Linked DNA regions of Homo sapiens: regions 1, 2 and 4 are each linked to region 3. The links come from fine-mapping of genetic effects on gene expression. A gene starts in region 3. Each other region holds a variant in brackets. All regions are shown on one strand. Distances are from middle to middle. Region 1 overlaps LIMD1 (LIM domain containing 1). Region 2 overlaps LIMD1 (LIM domain containing 1). Region 3 holds the start of LIMD1 (LIM domain containing 1). Region 4 has its middle 34 kb from the start of LIMD1.

Region 1 (7,475 bases), 55 kb after region 3:
AAATTTATTTTAGTAGCCATGTACAGCTTGTGGCTACTGTATTGGACTGCATGTAAAGCCTCTTGTTCCTAAATCTTTTTTTTTTTTTTTTGAGACAGTCTCACTCTGCCATTCAGGCTGGAGTGCAGTGCTGCATTATGGCTCACTGCAACCTCTGCCTCATGGGCTAAAGTGATCCTCCCACCTCAGTCCCTTTAGTCCCCTGGCTAATTTTTTTGAAATTAATTTTTGTAGAGTTGGAGTCCCACTATGTTGCCCAGATTGGTCTCAAACTCCTGGGTTCAAGTGATCCTCCCGCCTTGGCCTCCCAAAGTGCTGGAATTACAAGTGCAAGCCACAATGCCCGGCCTCTAAATCTTAGCCAGAGTTCACTTATTAGTAGGAAATTATTCATGAAGTTTCTTGTTTTTGATATTTTATACATCACCAAGTCAATGTAGTCACATTGTCAAAAAATGTATATGGGAGAAGAAAATCACCTATAATTCAATACCAAAAAGAACCCCCAAAAATGTATGCTGTGCCTACATAGACGTTTTTGCCTGGTTGTCATCACAGTGTATGTTTGCTTTTATGCCCTGCTTTTTCCACTTAGAAATATATCATATGCCTTTTCCCTCATTGCTTCATAGTCTTCATAACCATCTGCTGCGTAAGATCCTGTTGATTTGATGACTCAAAGCCAACATAACCTTCTTGCCAGTTAAAGTTTAAAGGGGAAGTGAACTCTTACCATGGGAGCTCCCAGACTCTTCCCAGGAGTACTGAGGCTGGCTGAGTGTGGATCCTGTGGCCAGGTTTTCAAGGACCAGATGCATAGCAGGGCACGGGTCAGCCTGGGGGTCCGGCAAATCCAATGCCTGGCCAGAGGATGCAGGCCCTTCCCTGTGTTCAGGGGCAGGGTGACAGCTGCCTCTCCACATCCGCAGCAGCCCTGCAATGGTCACCATTGGTGGCATTTGGATGCCAGCAGGGTCCCATATGCCCTGTTTTGGGCAGAGCGTCTCTGTCTCTTGCATGGATCACTGCTGTCACCTCCAGTCTGGTCTCTGGGCACAGCAGCGAGGAGGCCACTCCACAGCTCAGAGACCTTCAGCTACTTTTTGCCTTAACATTGTAGTCCAGTTCTTTTGCCTGGTGTTTAAGACATTTCCTTAAATTAGTTCTAACTTCCTTCCTGTCTTCTTTCTTTCTAACTATCCCCCTCCTCCGCTGCCCCACAGCCTCCCGAAGTGCTGAAGTCCCTGGCCACACTGCACATCACCTGTCCTTTTCTACCCCTGTACCTTGTCACCCTTAGCCTCCATCACCACCCAGGTGAATATCACTCTCCCTTCAGTGTCTTCCATTGCCATCTCCATTGCTACTCTCCTGATCTTGGGTCCCATGTGCACCCTTCATTTGCCTGTCCTATGGTGTTTTCAATTATGATTAGATTGAAACTGTTTGCAGGAATCTCTATCTCCCCCTAGGTGATCAGTTTTGGGAAAAATAGGGACAGGGTTTAACTGATCATGATTTTACTCCTTATAACCCTTCAGCACCTTTAGTATAATTCTGAACACAGAATAAATGTTGGAATAAATAAAGGTGACACTTCCCCATTACCTGGTACTCATCACTTCACCTCCTTACTCACCTTCCCTCATCCCTAAGCAACCACTGATCTTCCTATCCCTATAGATTTGCCTATTCTGGATATTTCATATGAATGAAATCATACAATATATGATCTTCTGTGTCTGGCTTTTTTCACTTAGCGTGCATTCCAGGTTCATCCACGTTGTAGTATGAATCAGTATCTCATTTCTTTTTATGGCTGAATAGTATTCCCTTGTATAGATGTACCATATTTTGTTTATCCATTCAGCAGTTGATAGACACTTGTTTTTATTTTTGGCTATTATAAATAATGTTGCTATGAACATTCCTAGGCAGGTGTTTATGTGAATGTATCATTTCTGTTCTCTTGGGTAAATATTAGGAGTGAAATTGCTGGGTCATATGGTAACTGTGTTTAACCTTTTGAGGACCTGTTTTTTAAAGAAGCTCTACCATGTTACATTCCCACCAGCCATGTATGAGAGTTCCAGTATTTCCACATCCTTGCCAACGCTTAGGCTTATCTAGTTTTTTTATTCTAACTATCCTATTTGGTGTGAAGTTGGATCTCATTGTGGGTTTTGATTTGCATTTTCCTGATGATTAATGATGTTGAGCATCTTTTCATACATTTATTGGCCATTGGTATGTCTTATTTGGAAAAATGTCTTCTCAATTCCCTGCTCATTTTTACTTGGATTGTCTTTTTATTATTGAGTCTTAATCGTTCTTTGTATAGGATTTGGGAATATTTTCTTTCATTCTGTGGACTGTCATTTCATTTCTTGATGGTATTGTTTACAGCACAAAGGCTTTAAATTTTGATGCAGTAGAATTTATCTACTTTTTTTCTTTTTTTGCCAGTGTTTTGGTGCTTTTTGTAGGAAAACATTGGCTGACCCAAGGTCACAAAGATTCATGTCCATGTTTTCTTCTAAATGTTTTAAAGAGATTTAACTAATAAGAAAAAAGTCTCACTTGTCCTCGCATTTGCCATTTCTGCTCCTTCTCATCCCTTTGTTTAGATTCAGGTTTTCATCTGGTACCATTTTTCCTTCTGCTTGAAGGACTTCTCTTAACATTTTTTCTTTTTCGTATGCTGATTTGGTGATGAATTCTTTAAACTTTTGTATTCTGAATTTATCTTTCTTTCATTTTTTTATTTTAAAATATATTTTTTTGGCTGGGCGCGGTGGCTCACGCCTGTAATCCCAGCACTTTGGGAGGCCGAGGCGGGCCAATCATGAGGTCAGAAGATCGAGACCATCCTGACTAACATGGTGAAACCCCGTCTCTACTAAAAATACAAAAAATTAGCCGGGCATGGTGGCGGGTGCCTGTAGTCCCAGCTACTGGCGAGGCTGAGGCAGCAGAATGGCGTGAACGCAGGAGGCAGAGCTTGCAGTGAGCCGAGATTGCACCACTGCACTCCAGCCTGGGCAACAGAGTGAGACTCTGTCTCAAAAAAAAAAAAATTATATATATGTATACATATATATATATAAAATTATATAGATATATTTATATATAATTATATATTTTATATATATAATTATATATATAAAATATATATATTGCTGGATATAGAATTCTAGCTTGATACTTTTTTGAGTTCCTTGAAGTTTTTTT[G/GT]TTTTTTTTTTTTTTACTATTTTCTCCCTTTTTTTTTTTAATGAGAAATCTGATATCTCTATTCTCTGTATGTGACATGTTTTTCCCCCATTCTGGCTGCTTTTAAGATTTCATCATTGATTTTGAGAAATTTGATTATGATATCCTTGGTGTGCTTTTCATGTTTCTTGTGCTTAGGGGTTTGTTGAGCTTCTTGGATCTGTGTGTTTGTAGTCAGTCTTCATCAAATCTATTTCTTCACATTCCTCCCCATCCACTAGGGACTCCAATTACTCCAATCTTAGGCATCTTGAAGTTGTCCCAGAGCTCACTTATGCCCATTTCGTTATTTAAAAAGTTCTTTTCCTCTCATTTCATTTTGGACATTTTCTATTGCTGTACCTTTAAATTCACTAATGTTTTCTCTTGCATGGTGTAATCTGCTATTAATCCCATCCAGTGTATTCTCTTTTCTAAAATTTTTAAAAAGCTTTTTGTTATTTATTTATGTATCTTTTTTTAAATTATACTTTAAGTTCTGGGGTACATGTGCACAATGTGCAGTTTTGTTACATAGGTATACATGTGCCATGTTGGCTTACTGTACCCATAAACTCATCATTTACATTAGGTATTTCTCCTAATGCTATCCCTCCCCCAGCCCCCCACCCCCCCCAACAGGCCCCAGTGTGTGATGTCCCCTCCCTGTGTCCACGTGTTCTGATTGTTCAACTCCCACTTATGAGTGAGAACATGCGGTATTTGGTTTTCTGTCCTTGTGATAGTTTGCTGAGAATGATGGTTTCCAGCTTCATCCATGTCCCCAAAAAGGACATGAACTCATCCTTTTTATGGCTGCATAGTATTCCGTGGTGTATATGTTCCACATTTTCTTTATCCAGCCTATTATTGATGGATATTTGGGTTGGTTCCAAGTCTTTGCTATTTTGAATAGTGCCGCAATAAACATAACGTGTGCGTGTGTCTTTATAGCAGCATGATTTATAATCCTTTGGGTATATGCCCAGTAATGGGATGGCTGGGTCAAATGGTATTTCTAGTTGTACATCCTTGAGGAATTGCCACGCTGTCTTCCACAATGGTTGAACTAATTTACACTCCCACCAACAGTGTAAAAGCGTTCCTGTTTCCCACATCCTCTCCAGCGTCTGTTGTTTCCTGACTTTTTAATAATCGCCATTCTAACTGACATGAGATGGTATCTCATTGTGGTTTTGATTTGCATTTCTCTGATGACCAGTGATGATGAGCATTTTTTCATATGTCTGTTGGCTGCATAAATGTCTTCTTTTGAGAAGTGTCTGTTCATATCCTTTGCACACTTTTTGATGGGGTTGTTGTTTTCTTGTAAATTTGTTTAAGTCCTTTGTAGATTCTGGATATTAGCCCTTTATCAGATGGGTAGATTGTAGAAATTTTCTCCCATTCTGTAGGTTGCCTGTTCACTCTGATGGTAGTTTCTTTTGCTGTGCAGAAGCTCTTTAGTTTAATTAGATCCCATTTGTCTATTTTGGCTTTTGTTGCCATTGCTTTTGGTGTTTTAGTTATGAAGTCCTTGCCTGTGCGTGTGTCCTGAATGGTACTGCCTAGATTTTATTCTAGGGTTTTTATGGTTTTTGGTCTTACATTTAAGTCCTTAATCCATCTTGAGTTAATTTTTGTGTAAGGTGGAAGGAAGGGATCCAGTTTCAGCTTTCTACATATGGCTAGCCAGTTTTCCCAGCACCATTAAGTAGGGAATCCTTTCTCCATTGCTTGTTTTTGTCAAGTTTGTCAAAGATCAGATGGTTATTTTTTTTTTTAAGATGGAGTCTTGCCCCCATTGTGCAGGCTGGAGTGTAGTGGCATGATCTCAGCTCAGTGCAACCTCCACCTCCCGGGTTCAAGCGATTCTCCTTCCTCAGCCTTCCAAGTAGCTGGGATTACAGGCATGCACCACATGCCTGGCTAATTTTTGTATTTTTAGTAGAGACAGGGTTTTGCCACGTTGGCCAGGCTGGTCTCAAACTCCTGACCTCAGGTGATCCACCTGCCTCGGCCTCCCAAAGTGCTAGGATTATAGGCGTGAGCCACCGCACCCGGCCTGTTATTTATTTTGAGACAGAGTCTTGCTCTGCTGCCCAGGCTGGAGTGCAATGGTGTGATCTCGGCTCACTGCAACCTCCGCCTCCCAGGTTCCAGCGATTCTCACGGGTCAGCCTCCTAAGTAGCTGGGATTACAGGCATGAGCCACCATGCCTGGCTAATTTTTGTATTTTTAGTAGAGGTGGAGTTTTACTATGTTGGCCAGGCTGATCTCAAACTCCTGTCCTCAAGTGATACGCCTTCCTTGGCCTCCCTAAGTGCTGGCATTACAGGTGAGAGCCACCATGCCCGGCCAGCCAATGTATTGTTTATCTCAGACATTTTGGTTTTCATCTCTAGCAGCTCAGTTTGAGCCTTTTAAATATTTTCCATGTTGCTACTTAACATTTCCAACATATTGAATATAGAAACAATAGCTTTTAATGTCCTTCTCTGCTAATTCTAATATCTGTGTCTGATCGGGGTTGATTTCCATAGATTGATTATTCTCTTCCCTGTGGGTTGTGCTTTCCTGCCTCTTTGCATGCCTGGGAATATTTGATTGGCTGCCAGACATTGTAAACTTTACCTTTTTGAGTCTTGGATATTTTGTATTCTTTCAATCTTCTGAGCATTGTTCTGGGATGCTGTTAAATTATTTAGGAACAGTGATTCTTTCTAGTCTTGCTTTTATGATTTATTAGATGAATTCAAAGCAGAGCTCAGTCTAGGGCTCTATTATTCCTCATTCTCAGGGCTGGTGGGAATAGGCACTGTTTCCAGCTTTTGTGGGTGCCAGGCACTGTTCTTGCGAATCCTGCAGATGTTTGTCCTCTGACTTTGGTTAGTTTCCTCACAGGCAAGAGCTGATCCATGCTCTGCTGAACACTTAACGGAGACCCTCTGCACATCTCTGGGTTGTCTCTGTGTGCAGTATTCTCATCTCTGATCCAGACGATAATAGCCTGGAATAGGGGAAATGGAAAACTAACTATAAGACAAAGACTTTGGAGTGGCACGTGAGAAGAGAATTGGAGCGTGAGGCAGCAGTGCTCAGAACATGGTCCTTGGCCAGCACCAGCAAAGGCCGAGAAAGAGATGAGAACGTTTAGAGACCTTCCTAAGAGTTTGACAGAGTGGCTTTGTGTCAGTTGAATTGGATAATAACTACAGTTGGGGCTTGGATTTTATGTTTCATTTTTCTATATTATTGTATTTTACAAGATAATAAGTCTGACAGATGGAAATTAAAAACAAAAGCCTCCCATACCTAGCCCTTTGCCACAGATAAACTGAGAAGGAAGGAGTGATGTAGGGGATTTGGATGAGGAGGGAGAGAGGGTGGTGGTTATGATTCTTAGCTCTGGTGGGTGTCATTTGAGGAAACGGAAGGTCAGGTAGGGATGCTGGCAACAGTCACACCAGATGCCTGGTATGAGGTGCACTGGGCTGCGTTCCCTACTGTGATCCCACTTTTATCCTTACCAGGGAACCTGAAGGGTTTGGGTGACAGCCAGGGTCTCATTTCAGGGAAGGGGCAAAGGCAAGGTTGGACCCCAAGCCTGAGTGCTTTTCCACTTTGCCCCTTTCTGCTGTGCTCCTTGGCTTACTGAGGCTTGGCAAGCCTGCAAAATCGAGGCTGGATCTCTCCTTCACTTGAGCCAAACCAAATTGATTTGTTTTTAGCAATATCTTTTAAGAGTTAACCTATTCTGGGGCTGGGTGTTGTGGCCTATGCCTCTAATCCTAGCACTTTGGGAGGCTGAGGTAGCCAGATCACCTGAGGTCAGGAATTCAAGACCAACCTGGCCAACATGGTGAAACCCCATCTCTACTAAAAATACAAAAATTACCTGGGAGTGATGGTGCATGCCTGTAGTCCCAGCTACTCAGGAGGCTGAGCCAGGAGGATGGCTTGAATCCAGAAGGCGGAGGTTGCTGTGAGCCAAGATTGCACCACTGCACTCCAGCCTGAGTGACGGAGCAAGACTGTCTCAAAAAAAAAAAAAAAAAAAGAAAAAGAAAAAAAAAAAAGAACCTATTCTAGAAAAGCTATTTGAAGAAGTAGATTGGTTAGAATTTTGTGCGATGATGCAGATATTCTAAAGCTTCCCTAGTCACAAGTGGCCATCAAGTACTCAAGATATACTTGTTCAAGCCCTGGCGCTAAATTTTTGATG
Region 2 (7,475 bases), 46 kb after region 3:
GCATTGTGGTTAACCAGTGGCCTCCTAACCTGCTGAGCCTTGATGGTCCAGGCCTGAGTTCTGAACCTCATGCTTCAGTCCTCACTGCAATTTGCCTTAGAACACATGCCTGAGAGTTTATGGTTTACACATTGATCAGTGTTCACCTGTGTAGGGAAAGACTATGAGAATGTCCGCAGTGGAAATCTAGGAGTGGTCTGGTTATCGAATTCTCTGGGTCTCTGTGCCTTTCCTTGTCTTTGAGCTATGTTGCACTCTGTAAGTTGTAGAATATTGATGGTACAACACATTCTTGTCTATAGCAATGCAGACTGTCTGGTGAGGTGCAGTTGATGATTGTTACCCTGTGGAGATTGACCAGTTTTGCAATCTATTTAGCAAATTGATTTCAACATTCCTGATGGCCTATGGTTCTTTGAATTCTCCCCATTAAACCCATTAATTGGTTCCTTTATTAATTGATGAGTTAAATAAAGTCTTTGGCACATGTTTGTGTTTTATCCATATGGGAGTTGTGTTTAGGCCCCCCTTTATTTATTTATTTAGTTAGTTAAATTTTAATTTTAGTTTTAGATTCAAGACGTGCAGGTTTGTTACAAAGGTATATTGTGTGAATCTGAAGTTTGAGCTTCTATTGGTCCTGTCACCCACACAGTGAACATAGTACCCAGTAGAAAGTTTTTCAGCTATTTGGTTTTCTGTTTCTTGTGTTTCTATGTTGCTGCAAAGGACATGATGTCACTTTTTTATGGCTGTGTAGTATTCCATGGTGTATATGTACCACATTTTCTTTATTCAGTTACTGCTGATGGGCACCTAGGTTGATTCCATGTCTTTGCTATTGTGAATAGTGTGGTGATAAACATACGAGTGCAGGTATCTTTGGTAGAAGATGTACTTTTCTTTGCATATATATCCAGTAATGGGATTACTGGGTCAAATGGTAGCTCTATTTTTAGTTCTTTGAGAAATCTCCTAACTGTTTTCCACAGTGGCTGAACTAATTTACACTCCCACCAACTGTGTATAAGCATTGCCTTTTCTCTATAGCCTTGCCAACATCTACTTTTTGACTTTTTAATAATGGCCATTTTGTGGTTTTGATTTGCATTTCTTTGATGATAATGATGTGGAGGTTTGTTTTGTTTTGAGATGGGGTCTCACTGTGTCATCCAGGCTGGAGTGCCATGATGTAATTGTAGCTCACTGCAGCCTTGAACTCAAGCAACCCTTCTGCCTTAGCTTCTGAGTAGCTGGGACTGCGGGCATGTGCCACCATGCCCAGCTAATGGTTTAAAATTTTTGTAGAGACAGAGGTCTCGCTGTGTTGCCTAGGCTGGTCTTGAGCTCCTGACTTCTGGTGACCCTCCCACCTCAGCCTCCCACAGGGCTGGGATTACTGGCATAAGCCACCACACCTGACCCTTGAGCATTTTTTTCATGTTTGTTGGCTGCTTGTATCAGATCTTTGTTTACAATTTATCTTTGACCTTTGACTCCTACAACAGTTTCTCAATACTTGCTCTATTTTTCAGGAAAAAGAAAATAAATATTAAGGAGAGGCTGTTTTCCACCTCAAGCAGTTACCATTTGAATTAGGGAAGCTGTTGGTGAGGGAAAACCAATTGATGAGCGTCTTAGTCTGTTTGGACTGTTATAACAAAGTACCATACACTGGTTGGCTTATAAACAATAGAAATGTATTTCTCACAGTTCTAGATGCTGGAAAGTCCAAGATCAAGGTGCTGGCAGATGAGGTGTCTGTTGAGGGCCCACTTCCCGGGCACTCATATGGTAGAAGGGGAGCTCTCTGGGATCTCCTTTATAAGGGCACTAATCCCATTCCTGAGCGTTCCACCTCATGAGAATCACCTCCCAAAGGCCCTACCCCCTAATCCCGTCACCTTGGAGGTTAGGATTTTTTTTCTTTTTTTGAGATGGAGTTTTGCTCTTATTGCCCAGGCTGGAGTGCAGTGGCGCAGTCTCGGCTTACCGCAACCTCCGCCTCCTGGGTTCAAGCGATTCTCCTGCCTCAGCCTCCCAAGTAGCTGGGATTACAGCCATGCGCCACCAAACCTGGCTAATTTTTGTATTTTTAGTAGAGACAGGGTTTCTTCATGTTGGTCAGGCTGGTCTCGAAGTCCTGACCTCAGGTGATCTACCCGCCTCAGCTTCCCAAAATGCTGGGATTACAGGCGTGAGCCACCATGCCCGGCCAGAGGTTAGGATTTTAACATAGGAATTTTAGGGGGACATAGACATTCAGCCCATTGCAGATGAGTCTGTGGGTTCCACCCAAGGCTGCTAGAGTGGCTGTCTATTTCTTAATGGATTGAGTTTCTCTTTCTTCAAATTGTGACAAGCACAGACACTTAAGGAAGACAGACCTGGTTTGGGTTTTTGATTGGTCTAGCATTGAAGGCCTTTGTGGTCTTGTCCCTGTCTTATCACTTCCTGTTTCCTATTCCAGTCAAACTGAATTTCTCTTTTTCACTTCCATGCCTCTGATCACATTGTTATCTAGAATAGCCTCTCCCCATTCACTTAATACATTTCTCTGTCCAGTCTTATGACTCAGCTCAAATGCCTCCTCTTCCAGGAAGCCTTCCCTGTTTCCTTAGCAGGAAGAGACTTCTCCTGAATTTGGTGCACTCTGCTTTCTTGTTGTTTTTTGTTGTTGTTGTTGTTTTGTTTTGTTTTTAAGACGGATCTCACTCTGTTGCCCAGGCTGGAGTGCAGTGGCATGATCTCAGCCCACTGCAACCTCTGCCTCCCGGGTTCAAGCGATTCTCCTGCCTCTCAGCCTCCTAAGTAGCTGGAACTACAGGCATGTACCACCAGGCCCGGCTAATTTTTGTATTTTTCGTAGAGACAGGGTTTCACCATGTTGGCCAGGCTGGTCTTGAACTCCTGACCTCAGGTGATCTGCCTGCCTTGGCCTTCCAAAGTGCTGAAATTACAAGCGTGAGCCACCACTCCCAACCCTTGTTGGTGTTATTACATAGATGGTGAACCTCATTCTCTGTGGATCTATTGCCAGCAAACCAGGCCCTAGAACAGAGTTGCTGAAGGAATGAGGATTCGGATTTTGTCAAAAAGTGAGTGCAGGGGCATTGCTGTTTGCCCTGGGGCTGCACACCCTCCTGCTCTGTGAATGTCCCACTTCCTGTCCAGTTCCAAAGAGCAGTTGGAATGTTGGAGACTGGGCTTGTGTCTCAGCGGCTTCTCTTAGACACTGGAGGTGACTTGTCTTTTTTCAGTTACCAGATTGCTGCCCTTTACCTCAGTTTTCAGCAGAAGGAGGCACCCGGGAGCTCTGTGTCTCAGCTCTGCAGGTCCTGAGTGTGTCTCTGTGAGCCTCAACACCATGGAGACGGCACAGCTGGGGGTCTGGGTGCATCTAGGGCATCCCCTCCTTCTTAGAAGAGAAAATGGGGGCAGACAGGGGAAGAATTTCTCAAGGTCAAAAACCTGGCTATGGAGCTGGCATGGAATCCAGACCTCTTGAATCTATGCTCACCTGTACTTCCTTGTTTTTCTGGTTCTCCCTCCTCTGATTTATTTCCACCTAGTCAAGCAAAAATAAGTGTGTTTTCTCTGTTCTTTATCTTATCTTGGTTATTGATAGAGTCTGGTGAGTGTGTGTATTTCTGAACATACTTGTATATGTATCTTTTCTATTTTCCCATTTCAATTATGAAAATCTAGTTTAAAACACTATATATAGTATGTAAAGCCAGATTTTATATATAATTATATATATTTTATTTTATTTATATTTTTTATATATATATAGCATATGGCATATGGAGGTATCTGTTGGTATATACACATACTTCCTGAGGTCCATTGATACTGCATTAAACCATGGTATTTGGATACTGTTAAGCTCACACACATTTACAGGGCAAGTCCAGGGCCTGACTAGTTT[G/C]GTAAAGATACAACAAGCCACTGTTACTTTAGGCAGTTTATTACTTACATAGGCAGGCAACACAAAGAATGTGTCAAAGGTACCATCTTCCTGGGTCCTTGTCCCATACACTGAAGAGGATGACACTGAAGCAAAAGGGGCTGATGACTGCCACATAAGTGGGATTTTGAGAAGCAATTTTAGACTGCAGCTAAGTGGTCTCAGAGCCCACAGCTCTGTTCTGAGAGGCAGGCAGAAATTCCCATACCTCATTAGAGATGAGACACTGTCTGGTGACAGGCTCCTGGGGGAATAGGGAGGTGAATGAGAGACAGCCGTGCATCTTTTTATGTTCTGGAAGCCTACAAGGTGTTCCACCAAGATTCAGGCAAACCTTTGCATACATGGCTATGTGCAGTTCTCCCAGGCACCATGGCAGGTTCCCTTACACGGATATGAACATTTCCCCATCTGCTGATGAGAAGCAGCAATGGGGAAAGCTGTGAGAAAATTGTATCTTTTTTTTTTTTTTCTTTTTGAGACTGGGTCTTGCTCTGTCGTACAAGCTGGAGTGCAATGGTGGGATCACAGCTCACTGCAGCCTTGAACTCCTGGGCTCAGGCGATCCTCCTGCCTCAGCCTCCTGAGTAGCTGGGATTACAGACATGCACCACCATGTTCAGCTATTTTTTATTATTTTTTGTAGAGACAGGGTCTTGCTATGTTGCCCAGGCTGGTCTCAAACTCCTGGGCTCAAGCAGTCTGTCTGCCTTGGCGTCCCAAAGTGCTAGGATTATAGGCATGAGCCACCACATCTGGCTGCTGCAAAGACAATTTTAAAGACAGAAACCTGTTATGTTAGCATTGTAGCTCAGCTACTGTCACTTTTATGTTTTCCCTGCCAGGTTTTCCCCAAGTTTATACACATTTTTTAGAGTTGCGATCATAGTATATAAACAATGTTGTATCCTTTTCAATTTAACATCATGTCATAGTTCATAATAATAATTTTAAGTTACATGGTGATGGATGAGTTGTGCCACAGTTAATGGCTGGTTTGCAGGTTGTTACACACAGCCCCAGCCAGCATCTTCGTGCAGCATCTTTCTTTCCTTCTGTGGGATTGTTTCCTTGGTGCTCGTTCCAGCAGTAAGCATCAGGTTGTGGTGTGGGCGTTTGTGTGGTTTGTTCAAGTTCCCTTCTTCTTTGCTGTGCTCCTTGGGCTGGGAATGTTTGGTTGCCGTGGAGATGAGTGCTGTGGGTCTCCCTCCTCTCCCCTCAGGCTCTGCCCACCCCAGGCGGCCATGCCCCCCCACTGGCACTGGACACTCTCAGGAAGCTGTTGGCACACCCTGGAGTGGGAGGGAGGTCTGTGGAGAGGACAGGAGTGGCCTTTGTTGACAGCTGTGTCTACTTACATGTCAAGTGGCCTGTCTGAGGGAGGCTGGCTCCCACCTGTGCCTCAGAAGCAGCAGCATGAGAGGAGGAAAAACACGCTGACTTGTGGGGTTGAGTGGACTTCTCGGCACCTTCAAGAATAGTCTGGGAGGCCAGGCGTGGTGGCTCAATCTGTAATCCCAGCACTTTGGGAGGTTGAGGCGGGTAGATCACTTGAGGTCACGAGTTTGAGACCAGCCTGGGCAATGTGGCAAAACCCCATCTCTACTAAAAATACAAAAATTAACCGCATGTGGTGGCACATGCCTATAATACTAGCTATTTGGGGGGCTGAGGCAGGAGAATCACTTGAACCCAGGAGGCGGAGTTTTCAGTGAGCCAAGATTGCGCCACTGTACTCCATCCTGGGCGACAGGGTGAGACTCTGTCTCAAAAAAAAAAAAAAGAATGGTCTGTGAGGGAGAAGTAGGCAAGGTCCTGTGTGCTCACTCCAGGCAGATTGAGGTTTAAAAACTAAGACGTTCATTTCACAGACTAAACAAATTCCATCCTACTTGCCATGTTAGTGTCATGATTCCTATTAGTTTTTCGGTGATATGAGACGGAAAATGATGGACTAGGTAAATATACTCTCCCCGCCAGAAGCCCATGGAGCAGGGGGGTGCCCACCTTGGGGATGGAAGCTGGGAAGCAGCCAGTCCCACAGTTGACAGAAATTACGCCTAGTGCAGGTCCGAGCTCAGTGGAAGGCTGCAGAGGGCCAGACGGGGTCCACTTGGGATGGTGCTGGAATGTGTAAGTCAAGGCCAGAATGAATTGCAGTGGTGTAACCTACTGTTTGTATTGCTCGGTGTAAGATGCACTGTGACCTGCCAGCCATGCCTTAGTGGGGAGAAAAAAGCAAAACTAAGATTATATACCATTGCTCATTTCACCTTCCAAAAACCGAATGTCCATGGCTGTTGAAGACTGCGAATGGGATTTATAGTAAAATCTCACTTGTTGAGACCCAGTTGGAAGAAAGCCTTTCTTAGTAATAAAAAGCCTGCATCTAGAACACTCACAAAATGCCATTTTGTTACTTGAGATAAATAAAACAATTAGGACCAAGCCTAGTGTTGTGGAACAGAGGTTCTTAGCGAATGAATAAGTCCTTGGTGATTGACTCACCAGTTAGTTCGCCTCTGAAGGACTGGAGGGTTCTTGCCAGCTATTTTGTTTTTCTTACAAAGTCTAAATACTGCATCTGAAATCCTTTCCCTTTTTTGTTGACTTTGTAAATGACCTCGTCAACCCAGCCCCTGAAAATGCTTACACATTTTGAATGAGTTAAGCCTGAACTAGGGAGGTCTTCCTTTAATTCATGCAGGTCTGCTTCTGTAAAACAGTCACTGCGATATTTATAGATAATTTTGGGTAAGCTTTCTAGCTTACCGTGGGCCTGACACCGCATAACCCTCCTCCACCCATGGCGGCGCACTAAATCCTGTAACAATTCAGGGAGTTCAACGTTCATTATTATTATTACTCTCAACTTAAGATGTACAGATTGAGGCTTGGAGAGTTTAGTTTGTGGTTGGTTTCGTCACTGTTAAGTGGTGTGGTCAGCACTTGAACCCAAGACCTGTGGATCCACAGCTCTTGCTGTTAGCCACTGTATTAAATTACCTTTGCTTAGAGAGAGTATTTGCCAAAGACAGGAGCCGGGCTGTAGCCATGGGGCCTTGCCTTGACTTTTCAGGTTCAGCCGCTGCCTTGGGGTTGTGTGACAACAGAGACTGGATTTTTGGCCACCCTCGAGTTGTGAGTGCAGGAGAGTGGCCTGGGGCTGGGAATAGGGGAGGTAGAATTCAATCATGGGATGCACCCATAGTAGAGAAATGGACTAAGGGCTTTAATCCCTGAGTTTCTGAGCTGTCGAATTGTCCGAATATTTCTCATCATATTCAGCAGTTCTGTATGAGCTGAATGAGTCAGCAGGACCTAAGGAAAAAGCTGAAGATCAAGAATGTGAGAAAGGAAGAGTGGGCAGATGCTAAAGGAAATCAGTGGGCACAGGAAAGATCAGGAAGCAACCAAAATAGGCTGGAGCTGGCCAGAGGGCTGCAGGGATCGGAAGAGAGTGGAGGGGCCACTTACTTTGGTTATCAAAGGGTCTCTTGTGTCC
Region 3 (7,475 bases):
ACAGGAGCAGGCACTTCTGAGCCTGTGGGAGTAGGGGGGCTTTCTAGGTCCCCGGGAGCACAGGGATGCCCAGGTCTGCAGCCACAGCTGGGTGGATGCAGCTGTGCCTGGGAAGGCAGGGCTCCCGCCCCACCAACTCAGAAGGGAGTGGGGCTCCTGCCTGTTCCTAGCTCCTACCAGCTCTATGGAGCATGCAGTCACGGCCTCACCTCGCCATTGCAGCTAGCATCATGGCAGTGGCTGCTCCAGATGGACCACTGCTGCCATCACCAAGATAGGATGAAAAGAGAAGACAAATGTAAGAGCACTGGTTGGTGTCTGTGGCTCCTGCACCAGGGTCCCAGCTGTCCAAACTGAAAACCCAGGAAGCTGGCTCTGAGCTTACTGGACTTTGCAGAGGGATGGCCATATATTCCTAGCACTTTGTCAGCTACAACTGCCATATTTGGAGGTCAGGCAAAGTGAGCCAGTCTTCCACTCCAAAATCCAGTTTTTAATTAATAAGTATTACCCAACACCTAAGGAGTGTTTAATTATGATTACCTCTGAGAAAGGGGATGGTAGGCAACTTTTAAAACTTTATATATGTCTGTATTGTTCAAAGTTGTTATAGAAACATGTATTACTTGTAGATAAAAAACCAAAAAAAATTTTTTAATAAAAATACTTCATTTTAGTATAGTGCTTTATAGCAGTGCTTCTGTAACTTTATTGTGCAAATAAACCGCCCAGAAATCTTGTTAAAATGCAGATTCTGATTCAGTAGGTTGGCAATGGGGCCTAAGATTCTGCATTTTCAACAAGCTCCCTGGTGATATGGAGTCCATTAACCATACTTTGGGTTTACGGCAGCGGTCCTCAATCTTTTTGGCACCAGTTTCACAGAAGCCAATTTTTTCACAGACGGGATGAAACTGTTCCACCTCAGATCATCGGGCATTAGATTCTCATAAGGAGCGTGCAACCTACATTCCTCATGAGGGTAGTTCATAATAAGGTTTGTGCACCCCTCTGAGAATCTAATGCCACTGCTGATCTGACAGGATGTGAAGCTCAGGCGGTAATGCCAGTAATGGGGAGTGGCTGTAAATACAGATGAAGTTTCGCTGGCTTGCCTCCTCTCACCTCCTGCTGTGCCACTCAGTTCCTAACAGGCCACAGACCAGTACTGGTCAGTAGCCCAGGGGTTGGGGACCCCTGGTTTACAGAATATAAAGCACATTCATATATATTATCTTATTTGTTCTCTGTCACAACTCTGGCAGATAGGGGTTCACTAATTCACTTATTCGACCATTAGGTACTACTATTAATATATACCAGGCACTTGGCATACAGATATGGTCAAATGGAGTGGGAAACCTACCACCCAACCAAACAAAAAAAAACGCATGTTAACCAACAAATAAATAATTATAAATAGTTATCAGAACTGAGCAGGAAGTAAAGAGGGTGCTGAAAAAGAACAACAGGAACCACTCTGAGGAGGCCTCTAAGAGGAGGTGACTTCAGCAGGGATGGGAAAGATGAGCCACTCAGTTTAGGGGCAAGCTCTGGGCAGACACCAGGAAGCTCCTGCAGCTAGAGTGCAGGGAGGGAGGGAAGATCCCTAGATCTGGCCCAGAAGGCTGCGGCAAGGGGCCGATTTCAATTTAATTCTGGGGTAAGCACTGAGGATTTAGGTAGAGAAGTGTCTGTTCTAGTATTTGCCTTAGGATCACGATGGCTGTAGTGTGGGAAATGAAACCTCTCCAGGATCGCCTGGGAACTGGTATAGGGAGTCCCGGGCCATGCGGGGGCGCCAAGGAGTCAGGCCTGGTGTCCCTGCAGCCGCGCGGATCCACTTGCAGATGGGTCCCTCTACGAATAACGAGCCTACTAGGGCACGTGCTTTTACTGCTGCACTGAGGACGTGAAATGCGCGCAGGCACAACGAGACTTTCTTCTTTTTCGCTCTTTCAGAGGGCCCGGGCTCCCATCTACGCTTTGCTGGTTACGTTGGCATGTTGGGCATTTCCCCCTCTCTGCCTCAGTCTCCCGACCTGTCAAAGAGGACGGTGGGCCAGCCATGGGTGACACGCCCGTGCGCCTCTCCAATAGTGCACCTCGGGCAAGCCGGGCGGCGGGCACAGCCTGGACGGTGCCGGCCTCGAGAGGCACAAAGGGCTGGCTTTCCACCGGGGAAACTGAGGCAGTGGAGCGAGGAGCGGCGTCCTCGAAAGTCCTCGCAAACTCCCAGCGCCTGTGTTGGGCCCATGCAGGCTACCCAGGCCGCCCGTCTCCGAGCGGAGGACCCCGCCCAGCGCTGCCAGGGGCGGGGCCGGGCTGAGGACCCGAGGCTGGAAGGGAGGTCGGAGCACCCAATTCGGTCCAGGACTCGCAGGGGGCGGCAGTGGCGGCGGCGAAGTCCCGTGCAGTCCCAGTGCTAGAGCGTGGGACGGACTTGTGGGGCACCCCTCGGTGTTCTCCAGCCAGGCCTGGGGGCAGGAGGCCCAGCCACGCTGCCGGGTGCAGGCCTGCCCCTGGGCGCCCGCCCGCGCGCCGTCCCCGCCCCTCGGCCGCCCCCTCCGCCCCGGCGCGGGCTCGGGACGTGCAGAGCCGGCGAGCGAGCAGCAGGGACTGCGCCTGGCGCACTCACTTCCGCGTCCCGCCGCCCTCCGGCCCGCGCGCGCCGATCCGCCGCCGCCATCGGACAATGGGCCGCCAGCCCCAGCTGCCGTGAACTTCCTGCCGCTGCTCGGCCGCCCGTGCGTCCCGGACGGCGTTCCTGCCAGGCGCCGGCCGGGATCGCAGCTCCGGGGAAGCAGCGGAGGACCCAGCGCCTGGAACGTACCTGCGCCTCAGCCGCCGCGCGTTTGCTCCGGCCCGACTCGCGGCCTCGGCGCCCTCCCGGCCGATTCAGCTTCACCCGGCCCAGTCGGCTGCTGCCTTGCTGTGAGTTTCCGTGTTTGGTTGCCTAAGGAGGATGTGATTTTACTTTTTTGCTGTTTTCTTTTTCCTTTTATAATTTGAAGAGGAGAAAAGAACTCCGCTGAGCAGGCCCGGGACGGCGAAGTGCCACCAGCTACCCCAACAAGGACGTCTCCAGGGGAAAGGGAGTTGGAAGCAAACTTGGTCCAGCTGGCGTTGAGGTCTCAACTTCGGCTGGACTCTTAAATCCTGGGGTCATGCCCTTCACGCTAGGCAGGTGGAAGTCTTTACTTGTACTGGGCCGGACTTGAGCCCCGACCCTTCGCCAGCATCTCCCCGCTGCCCTCAACACACACACACACACACACACACACACACACACACACACACACACACACACACACACACACACACGGCACCTGGGCTAGGCCCGGACACCTGTCTGCAGCATGGATAAGTATGACGACCTGGGCCTGGAGGCCAGTAAATTCATCGAGGACCTGAACATGTATGAGGCCTCTAAGGATGGGCTCTTCCGAGTGGACAAGGGTGCAGGCAACAACCCCGAGTTTGAGGAAACTCGCAGGGTGTTCGCCACCAAGATGGCCAAAATCCACCTCCAGCAGCAGCAGCAGCAGCTCCTGCAGGAGGAGACTCTGCCCAGGGGGAGTAGAGGCCCTGTCAATGGAGGGGGCCGCCTGGGCCCACAGGCCCGTTGGGAAGTTGTGGGCAGCAAGCTGACTGTGGATGGTGCTGCCAAGCCTCCTCTTGCTGCCTCGACAGGGGCACCTGGGGCAGTCACCACCCTCGCTGCTGGGCAGCCCCCGTACCCACCGCAGGAGCAGAGATCCAGGCCATACCTGCATGGCACGAGGCATGGCAGCCAGGACTGTGGTTCCAGGGAGAGCCTGGCGACTTCTGAGATGTCTGCTTTCCACCAGCCAGGCCCCTGTGAGGATCCTTCCTGCCTCACTCATGGAGACTATTATGACAACCTCTCCTTGGCAAGCCCAAAGTGGGGTGACAAACCAGGAGTGTCCCCCAGCATCGGCCTGAGTGTAGGGAGTGGGTGGCCTAGCTCCCCGGGGAGTGACCCACCACTGCCCAAACCCTGCGGGGACCATCCCCTAAATCACCGACAGCTCTCCCTGAGCTCCAGCAGGTCTTCTGAGGGTAGCCTCGGTGGTCAGAATAGTGGCATTGGTGGCCGCAGCAGCGAGAAGCCAACAGGCCTTTGGTCCACTGCCTCCTCCCAGCGGGTGAGCCCTGGCCTGCCTTCCCCAAACTTGGAGAACGGAGCACCAGCTGTGGGGCCTGTTCAGCCCAGGACCCCTTCTGTGTCAGCACCCTTGGCCCTGAGCTGCCCCAGGCAAGGAGGTCTTCCAAGATCAAACTCGGGGCTGGGGGGTGAGGTTTCAGGTGTGATGTCCAAACCCAATGTGGACCCCCAACCCTGGTTCCAGGATGGGCCCAAATCTTACCTTTCCAGTTCTGCCCCGTCATCCTCGCCAGCTGGTCTGGACGGTTCACAGCAGGGTGCGGTCCCTGGGCTGGGGCCGAAGCCTGGCTGCACAGACCTTGGCACTGGTCCCAAGCTCAGCCCCACCAGTCTTGTCCATCCAGTGATGTCCACCCTGCCTGAGTTATCTTGTAAAGAGGGTCCCCTGGGCTGGTCTTCTGATGGTAGCCTGGGATCTGTGCTCCTGGACAGCCCCAGCTCCCCTAGGGTAAGGCTGCCCTGCCAGCCCCTCGTCCCAGGTCCTGAGCTGAGACCCTCTGCTGCTGAGTTGAAATTAGAAGCCCTCACCCAACGTCTGGAGCGAGAGATGGATGCTCACCCGAAGGCTGATTACTTTGGTGAGTGAGAGGCTGGTGGAGTTGCCTATGGTGGGGCGATGGGGTTCTTGAGATTGGGGAACATGCCCCCTACCAGGGATGCTGTGGGCTGTAGTTACCTCTCTTTGAGTGGCCTGTTTTTTTATTTTTTTGTTTTGGGCTTCCTCTTTCAGCTGCTTTTTCTGATTCAGAAACTTGAAAGCATCCTGGGGCAGAAAGCGGACCTTGCAGCTGGGGTTACCCATGTGTGAAGGGTGCAGCAGGGTGGGATTGCTCATGACTGCTCTCAGAAAAGAGAAATGCTGTGACTTTGGATTTCAAGGGTTTTGGGTGTGACTTTAGAGCCTCTTGCAGTGACAGGCTCATATAGGACTTCAGTGGGACCAGCTTTCTCAGGGGCAGCTACCCCTGAGCGTTCAGTCTGTAGTTGGTTGGGCAGATCTGGTTGATCTGGCTGTTTGAGGGACCAGTGATTGAGGCAGGGGCTCTTGACTGCCGTGTGTGTGTGTCTGTGTGTGTGTCTGTGTGTAGATGGGTACTTATGTGCAGTTGAGGCAGGTCAAACACTACCATGAAAGACTTGTAGAGCAGTGGATCTTTTTTTTTTTTTTTTGAGATGGAGTCTCGTTCTGTAGCCCAGGCTAGAGTGCAGTGGCACAATCTCGGCTCACTGCAACCTCCGCCTCCCGGGTTCAAGCAATTCTCCTGCCTCAGCCTCTTGAGTAGCTGGGACTACAGGCACGTGCCACCACACCTGGCTAATTTTTTTTTTTTAAGTAGAGACAGGGTTTCACTGCGCTAGCCAGGATGTTCTCAATCTCCTGACCTCGTGATCCGCCCGCCTTGGCCTCCCAAAGTGCTGGGATTACAGGCGTGAGCCACCGCGCCTGGCCAGAGCAGTGGTTCTTAAGTGTAGTCCCTGGATCAGCAGCATCCCTTTGCCTGGAAACTGATTAGAAATGGAAATTCTTGGGCCCCACCCAAGACCTACTGAATCAGAAACTGTGGGATGGGACCCAGCCAGCCGTGATCCTGCTGTGTGGTGAGATTTGAGCCCTGCCGCACCATGTGCCTCCTAACCCAGCCTACACCCAGGTAACAGCCAACAGCCAGGTTGCACCACAGCCGTGGCACAAACTATGATGGAAAATGTGTCTTCCTGGTTTTACTCAAACTTGCATGTTTTGTTTTATTCTCTTTTTTAAAACCACAAACTCTTGGAGACTGCTAGCTTCAACTTTTTTTCTTTGCACGAGGTTTAGTGGTAGTTGTATCTTTCTGTTGAGTAATGATTAGTTGTCTCATAAGAGAGCTAACTAGAAAGACAGCCTATTCGCAGAGAATCGGAGGGGTTTTTCTTTTTCAGTTTTTAACTTTGGATAATTGACCCCCGTGTTCCCCATAGCCTGAGTCCTGCTGGGGTAGCAGCTCTGCCTAGTGGAGGGCAGGGACAGGGAAGGCCCTGGGAGAGGAAGACAGCTGGCTTACTGCTGTCAGTCTACGCTTATTCTCCGTGAACGAGCAAGTGTCCCAAGGTCCTTTGAGGGACCAGGGTCTGAGGCACTGGGCTGCTGGATGTGTGCAGCTTATGGTAGCATTGTGTTTTGCTTCTCATGAGAACCTTGTGGGAGCCAGTTCTCACCCCATACTCAGCAGGCTGAGGTCAGGGTAGCTGTTTATGGCTTACTTTTTTTAAATTTATTTTTATTTATTTATTTGTTTATTTATTTATTTATTTTGAGACAAGGTCTTGCCTTGTTGCCCAGGCTGGAGTGCAGTGCACCCTAGACCTCCCGGACTCAAGGCATCTTCCTACCTCAGCCTCCTGAGTAGCTAGGACTACTTAAGAGGAAGCAGGGGAGGAAGGGGACGTGGAGGTGGGGGGTCCTCTCTAGGTTGCCCAGGCTGTTCTTCTGGGCTCAAGTGATCTTCCTGCCTCAGCCTCCCAAAGTGCTGGGATTACAGGTGTGAGCCACTGTGCCCGGCCTACTGGTTTATTTTTTAAAGCACATGGCACCATCTTACTGTGAACTATCTTTTCTCCTCAGCACATTCCCACATTTGGGAGTAATAGTTAGCTGGAAATACTGTGGGTCTTTTAATTTAAACTTTTGTTTAGTTGTAAATTTCAAGCTCATTGGACAACACAAACAGCAGTTTTATCTTGAGATGCAAGTTTATGCTGTGCATCAGAGCAACGGTATTAGCTGACGCTACTCATCCATTCAGCATATATTAAAATTTATTGAGCACCTATCTTGAGGCCATGCTCTATTCCAGGTCTTGGGGATACATAGTGAACAGGACAGACAGGAACCTCTGCCTCCCTGGAGCAGACAATGTAGTAGAAGGAGGCAGGGAGTGAATGAAGTAAATAAGCAAGTACTAGGGAGAGAATCAAGGTAGAGAAAGGGAATGGAGCCCTGGGGCTGGGGGTGGCAGAGAGATTTCCAGTTTTAAATTGGGTGATCAGGGAATGTCCCACCTAGAAGATGCATTTGAGCAAAGGCAGGCAGGAGACTGGACCATGTGTTTTCCCAGGGAAATGGTGTTCTTGGCAGAGCAGACAGCAAGCACAGAGTCCCTGTAGGCCTGGTCTGTGCTGGGCACTGTACTGAACACTTGATGCTGACTATTGAATTGACTGGTCACAGCATCCTTGGAAGCTGGTTCTGCCATTATGCCCATTTTACTGATGAGAAAACGGAAGCTCAGGGAGATTAAATTAC
Region 4 (7,475 bases), 34 kb before region 3:
CCCTCATGAACAATGTGGCCCCTGCCCATCTCATGAACCTGTTCTCCAGGCCCTGGACCACCACACATTCTCCACTCCAGACACAGGAGGCCCAAGCAGGTGTCAGGGACCAGCACTCCATCTCCCCTCCGGGCCTTCGCAGGGGCTGGTCTCTCCCAGAACACCCTTCCCCGCTCTCCCTGGCTAGCTCCTTGTGTGCCTTGAACAATCACTGAAAGGGTTTAGGTTACAGAGAGGCAAGGTCAGAACCTTTTTTAAAAAAAAAACAAAAACAAAAACAGAGTCTCCCTCTTGTCACCCAGGCTGGAGTGCAATGGTATGATCTTGGCTCACTGCAACCTCCACCTCCCGGGTTCAAGCGATTCTCCTGCCTCAGCCTCCCAAGTAGCTGGGATTATAGGTGCCTGCTACCACCCCCGGCTAAGTTTTTGTATTTTCAGTAGAGATGGGGTTTCGCCATGTTGGCCAGGCTCCAGGCTGGTTTCGAACTCCTGACCTCAGGTCGTCCGCCCACCTCAGCCTCCCAAAGTGTTGGGATTACAGGCGTGAGCCACTGCGCCCAGCCAGTGCCCAGAGCAAGGTGGTGAGGAGCTCATCTGGGGCCAGCCCCCGAGCAGACAGGGAATGGCTGGGGCTCTGGGTGAGGGCAGAGCTGTGGAATGAGAGAGAAGGGGCAGATGGAGCAGTGTTGCCAGTGGACAGGCCCTGGCAGCATGCTGGAGAGGGAAAGACCAGGACTGGAACATCAGCACATTACTAGGGTAGAGGGTGCTGCCTTGTGGGGACAGCCAGGAGGGCAGGCTCATTCAGGGGTCCAGAGCCTACAGCTGAGGGGGCCTGGCTGGGAAGGGGTCACTGTGTGCCCTTGAGCCACCACGCGTGAACCTGCTTTGTATCCTCCCGAGGAAATTGAGTTAAACTCCTAAGATACTTAATACCTTGAGTTAATCTCCTAAGACAGGATCTCAAGGTAGGGCAGACTGAGAATGTGTCCATTCCAAGGAGGCATGTCCCTGGGGCCAGCCTTTGGGTTATGATGGCTGAAGTGAGTCAGCAGCGTGTGTTTCGCCCTGCATGGCCCATGGAGAGGCCTCTGGGAGGCAAGTGCCCATTTGCTTCCCTGATGGCTACCTCTCTGCCCATGTGCAGAAGGTGGTGAGAAGGCAGGAGAAGAAAGGCCACAGCTCTATATCTCTTTGTTGTAACCATCACAAGGACATGGGACTCGGGCTGCAGAGGCCCTCAGAGGTCTTCTAGCCCAGGGATGCTCAGCTGCCTCCCCAGTCCCTCTTTCAGGGAACCTGCTCACCTCATGAGAGACAAACCACCATTTTTGGAGGAGTTTGAATACAGTTTCTCAGCATCTTGTTGCAATCGCTATGCACAGGGAGGTTTAAGACTCTACAGCTGGCTTCTCAATTGTTGCCAGGGAGCCTGCAGAACCAACCTGCCCTCCCCACAGCTGGATAACCTGTCTCACCAGTGCACAGTTCTCCAGTTTAGCATCTCTGAAGTCAAGATGTGTTCTTAAAGGGAACAGTTGTGATGTCATTGCTGCAAATCTTGCACATGACCACTGGTAACTTGGAAGAAAATCCCAGAGACAAGAGTGGAGCAGCTTGTTAGGAAATGCCACATCCTCAGTGCTCGTGACGATGGGAAGGATCAGAGCATAGAAGATGTGGACATCACAACTCTTGTAAAACAGTGATTCAGAAGAGTTCTGAATGAACAAATTTCAGCCATGCCTTAACTAACTTATTTTACTTGTATTTTCCTTTTTATATATGTATCATAGTGATATATGGTAAAATTTATCTAAATAATGCCCGGGCACAGTGGCTCATGCCTGTAATCCCAGCACTTTGGGAGGCAGAGATGGGCAGATCACTTTGAGGTCAGGAGTTTGAGACCAGCCTGGCCAACAGGGCGAAACCCCGTCTCTATTAAAAATACAAACATTAGCCAGGCATGGTGGCACGTACCTATAATCCCAGCTACTTGGGAGGAGGCTCTTCGAAGCATGAGAATCTCTGGAACCTGGGAGGCAGAGGTTGCAGTGAGTGGAGATTGCGCCACTGCACTCCAACCTGGGTGACAGAGTGAGACTTTGTCTAAAAATAATAATAATCTAAATTTAAAAATAATAATCTAAATAAGTCTGAAGTATGTAGTTCAATAAGTATAGAATTAAAAATCTAAGTAATAAGAGAACACCGTGCCATAGTTTAATGTCAGCATTTTTTTGTTGTGTGTGTGTATGTGTGGTACATGCACCTTAAAATCAGTGAGATCTTTGATTTAATGAAATGTGGATAATTGTCCATTGAAGTCTACTTAATACCTTGAGTTAGACTCCTAAGATAGCATTGTACTGAAATCGTCTTGGTGTCTGTTTTCCCTGCTAGGCTGGCTACTTCCTTGAGGGCTGAGCAGCACCTTGATGATGGAGAGTCTCTAGAATCTAACACAATGTACAGTAGGGGAGCACAGTAATGTCCTGTCAACCACTGGGTTTGGGTAGTGGTGTATTCCTATATACCAGCCATAAAGGTACCTGCACTTTTTTTTTTCTGGGAGGGTGGGCAGAGTTTAGAATCCCTAAACCACTTCGTCAGCAAGGCCCCTGGTGTGGTTGTATAGATTGTGCACTGCACAGAGGCACCCAGACAAGAGACCCAGTGGGGCTGAAGTTGGTGGTTGCCCTGCTGCCCAAGCCACGTGCCGCCCAGGCTATGTGCCCGTGGGACTGACTGCCCAGTACAGGCAGCTTTTCTCATTTTTACAAACATGCGATGGAGGTGATCAGTGGATTTGTTCCTCAGGCCCTAAGTGGAATTTTCCCTGCAGTGCCTCTGACCTTAGGAGTCCTAAGCAGCTGGTCAGGATGGGCTAAAAGCCTGACCTTCAGATTGGCCCAGATGAATGTTGTTGGGGCGGGGGAAGTGGTTACAGACTTTTGGGTGAAGCTGGCGGTGCAGGAAAAACTTTAGTTCTGATTCTGACCCTACGCCGGCTCTGTGACCTCAAGTTAGTGCAACAGAAATGGGATTTTGATTTCTTTAATTCCAAAGTTGACCCGGGGGTGCCAGCTGGTGGGTAGGGTGGGAGTTCTGAGAGGAAACAGTGCTGAAAATAGTTTGGGGACATTCTGTAAGTTGAAAACTGCAGAGCAGCCCTAAATGATGCCTGGAGATTTCTCCTCATGGGGAACAAAAGGGTAACAATTGGAGGGTTTCCTGCTTGGCCCTTCAGTTAAGACTTTGGCTCTGGTCTCTCTGGCTGCCACAGAATCACTGATTGTTGAGGATCAGCCGTGGGGCATCGTCTGAACACAGTAGCCCATTGCAAAATAGTTTGCGTGTGTTTTCAAGTCTTGGTGGCCAAGAGCTGGGCTGACCCCAAAAGTGAAGAAGCCGGACGGGGAAGCAAAGACAGCTGCGAGGAGGGAGTGAGGGAGCTGCCAGAGGAAGTACTGTGGGTCTATTTTAAGACTGGAAAATTGGAAAGCTGAGGAAGTACAACGTGTTTCAGTAACGGGGCCCAGCAATCCCTGGCCTTCGCGGGGATATTTCCCCTGAGGTGAGAGTACAGAAGGACTGAACATTTCTATTCACCAAAATGCTGAGGCCAGAGCTCATGGGAACCAGGAAGGGGAGAGGAGTGGGGAGGACAACCAAGTGTTTAAACTAGATAGAAGCCACTGG[G/A]TGTGTTGGTGGTTCTGGACCTTGGCTATGGATCAGAATGGCCCTCTCTGGGCCAGAACTGAAAACCACTGGGCAGTGGAATAATGGAGAGATTGGCGGATGATGGCCTGTGGGCCAAAGCTGGCCTAGCATCTGTTTTTGTAAATGAAGTTGTACTGGAACACTGCCATGCTTAATTGTTTACATATCATCTGTGGCTGTTTTTGAACAGAGTTGAGTAGTTGCGACAGAGACTTTATGTCCTACAAAGTCTAAAATATTTATTATCTACCCCTGTACAGGGAAAATCTGTCAATGACACAAGAGTCACTGGGCTTGGGGGTCTAAAAACTTGGGTTGAGTTCTAGTGTACCTATATCCCTATCTGGTGACCTAGGGCAAAGCTTTAGCCAAGCCTCAGTTTCTTTCTCTGTAAATCAAGTAGCAATGCCCATCTTACCCAGGTGTGAATATTGAACAGATAATATATTTATTGTACTCCTCGGAGGTATTTTTAGTTATTATTTTAGATATTACAACATACAACCTTATAATAATCTTCCTTGAGTTAATATTATACCACTTTACAAACAAGGTAAAAATTGAACCATTCTTGTCCGGGCGCGATGGCTCACACCTGTAATCCCAGCACTTTGGGAGGCCGAGGTGGGCAGATCACGAGATCAGGAAATCGAGATCATCCTGGCTGACACAGTGAAACCCCGTCTCTACTAAAAATACAAAAATTAGCCAGGCGTGGTGGCAGGTGCCTGTAGTCCCAGCTACTCGGGAGGCTGAGGCAGGAGAATGGCATGAACCCGGGAGGCGGAACTTGCAGTGAGACGAGATCACACCACTGCACTCTAGCCTGGGCGACAGAGTGAGACTCCATCTCAAAAAAAAAAAAAAAAAAAAAAATTGACCCATTCTTGCAACAGTTTCCCTTCCCTGTCCTTTGAAGGTATGGGCATATACTTTTTCTACATATTTTATAAATCCCACATAAATGCATATTATTTTTGCTTCAGACAGTCAAGTCTTTAAAGAAATTTTAAAAAGAAAAAATACTTTTATATTTACCTCAATAGTTACCATTTCTGGAGTTCTTTCTTCTTCCTGTAGTTCTGGGCTTCAATCTGAGATAAATTCCCTTTAGCTTAAAGCATTTTCTTTAGTGTTTCTTATAGTGGTTCTGCTGGCAGTAAGTTCTCATAGCGTTGGCTTGAGAAACCTTTCTTTCCCTATACCATACTGGATATAGCCTTCTAGCATGGTACTTTTTTTTTTCAACATTTTAGATGTCATTCCATTGACTCCTGGATTTCATTGTTTCAGATGAAAATTAACCATCATTCTTTTTGTTGTTGTATTAAAGATAATGTTTTCTTTCCTTTGGCTACTTATAAGATTTTCTCTTTTAACTCTAAAGATTTTATCTATAGTTTGACTAGGATATGCCTAGTTGTAGTTTTTTTCTTTGTATTTATCCCTCTTGGGGTTTTTAAGATTAGGAATCTGTGGGTTGATATCTTTCATCAATTTTGGAAAATTGTCAGCCATTACATCTTCAAATATTTCTTCCCCAATTTCACCTCTCTTCTTTTTCTGGTGTATCACTTAAATTTACATTTGATCATTTGATATTGTCTCACAGTCCTCTGACAGCCTGTTCTGTACTTTTTTTTAATTTTAAAAAGAAATCATACAGTTGTGAGAAATTATTAATAGATATCCTTTGGACCCTTTACCTAGTTTCCCCCAGTGATAACATCTTGCAGAATTACAGTATATCACAACCAGGATACTGTCCTTGATAAAATCCATCAATCTTGTTCAGATGTTCCTAGTTCTACTTGTATTGATTGTATGTGTTTGTGTGTGTGTGCACGTGCACACATGTATTTAGTCTTTGCAGTTCAATCACAGATGTATGTTCATGTATGCACCATCACAGTTCAGATTCAGAGCAATTTCATCGCTACAATGTTTCCTCAAGTTACCCTTTTATAACCACCCCCATCTTCCTACTACACCCCTACCTCATCACAAACCTCTGGCAACCACTAATCTGTTCTTCATCTCTATAATTTGGATATTCAAGAATGTTAACATAAATGGTATTATATAGCATGTGGCCTCTCAGATTGCCTTTTTATACTCAGCAGAATTCCCTTGAGATTCATCCAAGTTGTTGCATTTATAAATAGTTCTTTTTTTTATCATTGAGTTGAATTCTATGGTATGAATATATCATTGTTTGTTTAACTATTCACCCATCAAAGGACATCTTGGTTATTTCAAGTTTTGGCTATTATCAATACAGCTGCTATGAACATTCATGTACAGGTTTTTGTGTAAATATAACTTCTCATTTCTCTGGGTAAATGCTGTGGTTTGAATGTCTCCTCTAAAACTCTTATTGAAACTTAATCCCCAATGGCAGTATTGAGAAGTGGGGCCTTTAAGAGGTGATTGGAAGGCCGGGCGCTGTGGCTCACGCCTGTAATCCCAACACTTTGGGAGGCTGAGGCGGGTGGATCACCTGAGGTCAGGAGTTCAAGAACAGCCTGGCCAAAATGGCGAAACCCCATCTCTACTAAAAATACAAAAATTAGCCAGGTGTGTTGGCATGTGCCTGTAATCTCAGCTACTTGGGAGGCTGAGGCAGGAGAATCGCATGAACCCAGGAAGCAGAGGTTGCAGTGAGCTTAGATCGCACCACTGCACTCAAGCCTGGGTGACAGAGCAAGACTCTGTCTCAAAAAAAAAAAAAAAAAAAAAAGGTGATTGGATTACACCATTAATGGATTAATGGATTAATAAATTAGTGGATTGATGAGTTATCATGGGAGGGGAATTGGTGACCTTATAAAAAGAAGAAAAGAGACTTAAGATGGCAAGTTAGCATGCTCAGCCCCTCACCACATGATGCCCTGCACCCCCTCAGGACACCAGAGTTCCCACCAGCAAGAAGGCTGTCACCAGATGCAGCCTCTTGACCTTGGACTTCTCAGGCTACATAACTGTAAAAAATAAATTCCCTTTCTTAATAAATTACCCAGTTTCAGGTATTCTGTTACAAGCAATAGAAAATGGACTAAAACACTGCCCAAGAATGCAATTCCTAGGTCACAGGATAATTGTATATTTACTGGCATGTGTTTTGAATTCTCTAATTCTTTCTTCTTCTGTGTGGACTCTATTATTAAATTTATAAATGAATTCTTCATTTATACTGTATATTTTAATTCAAACATTTCCTTTTTTTAAAGTTTTATTTCTCTGTCAAATACTTCATATTTTCCTATGTTTGCCTATCTTTTTACATAAATTCTTTAACATATTTAAATAGTTATCTTAAATCCTTGTTAGCTAATCCCAGCATCTGGGTTATCTGTGGGTCTGCTTTTGTTGATAATTTCTTTTTGTCTGATGAAGGATTACATTGTCTTTCACATGTCTTATCATTTTTTCAGTGTATGCCAGAGATAGATATAAAAGCACAGGAGAGAATGAGGTGCATAATATTCCCCCCAGAAAGAACTATCATCTTTCAGGAAGCTAGAGAGAGGGGCCCATCTGTTCAAGAGCTGCATTCTGTGAACACTGAGATGCAGCCTTGGTAATTTCAGTTCACTTAGTTTCAACTCTTGAGTGTGGTTTCAGGCCACCCCCTCCAGCAGAGATGGTCTCTGAACAGGTGCTAAGGAGATTTGGCAACACTGAATGGCATCCCCAAGAAGTCTGCTGGGTTTCTGCAGGACACTCTTCTTTACCAAGCCAACCACC

The links. PIP is the estimated chance that this variant, and not a neighbour inherited with it, causes the effect. A credible set is the group of variants that fine-mapping cannot tell apart.
Region 1: its variant is the best candidate, but not a certain one, in a credible set for the expression of LIMD1 in whole blood (INTERVAL, PIP 0.65).
Region 2: its variant is the best candidate, but not a certain one, in a credible set for the expression of LIMD1 in whole blood (TOPMed, PIP 0.62).
Region 4: its variant is the best candidate, but not a certain one, in a credible set for the expression of LIMD1 in tibial nerve (GTEx, PIP 0.60).

Annotation. Positions count from the first base shown.
Region 1 is chr3:45,646,617-45,654,091 of GRCh38, forward strand. All of the region lies in intron 2 of LIMD1 (LIM domain containing 1), which reads left to right. Among named protein-coding and RNA genes, the nearest start is that of LIMD1-AS1, 39 kb to the right of the region's middle. RefSeq lists an enhancer at 477-978. The variant G/GT (reference allele first, on the strand shown) is at 3,232.
Region 2 is chr3:45,637,746-45,645,220 of GRCh38, forward strand. All of the region lies in intron 2 of LIMD1 (LIM domain containing 1), which reads left to right. Among named protein-coding and RNA genes, the nearest start is that of LIMD1, 47 kb to the left of the region's middle. RefSeq lists an enhancer at 1,312-1,606. The variant G/C (reference allele first, on the strand shown) is at 3,932.
Region 3 is chr3:45,591,521-45,598,995 of GRCh38, forward strand. It overlaps LIMD1 (LIM domain containing 1), which reads left to right and starts at 3,231. Exons shown (of 8, transcript NM_014240.3): 1 at 3,231-4,767. The coding sequence starts at 3,360. RefSeq lists silencers at 2,238-2,707, 2,718-2,847 and enhancers at 2,938-3,107, 5,603-6,102.
Region 4 is chr3:45,557,026-45,564,500 of GRCh38, forward strand. No RefSeq gene overlaps it. Among named protein-coding and RNA genes, the nearest start is that of LIMD1, 34 kb to the right of the region's middle. RefSeq lists an enhancer at 7,396-7,475. The variant G/A (reference allele first, on the strand shown) is at 3,708.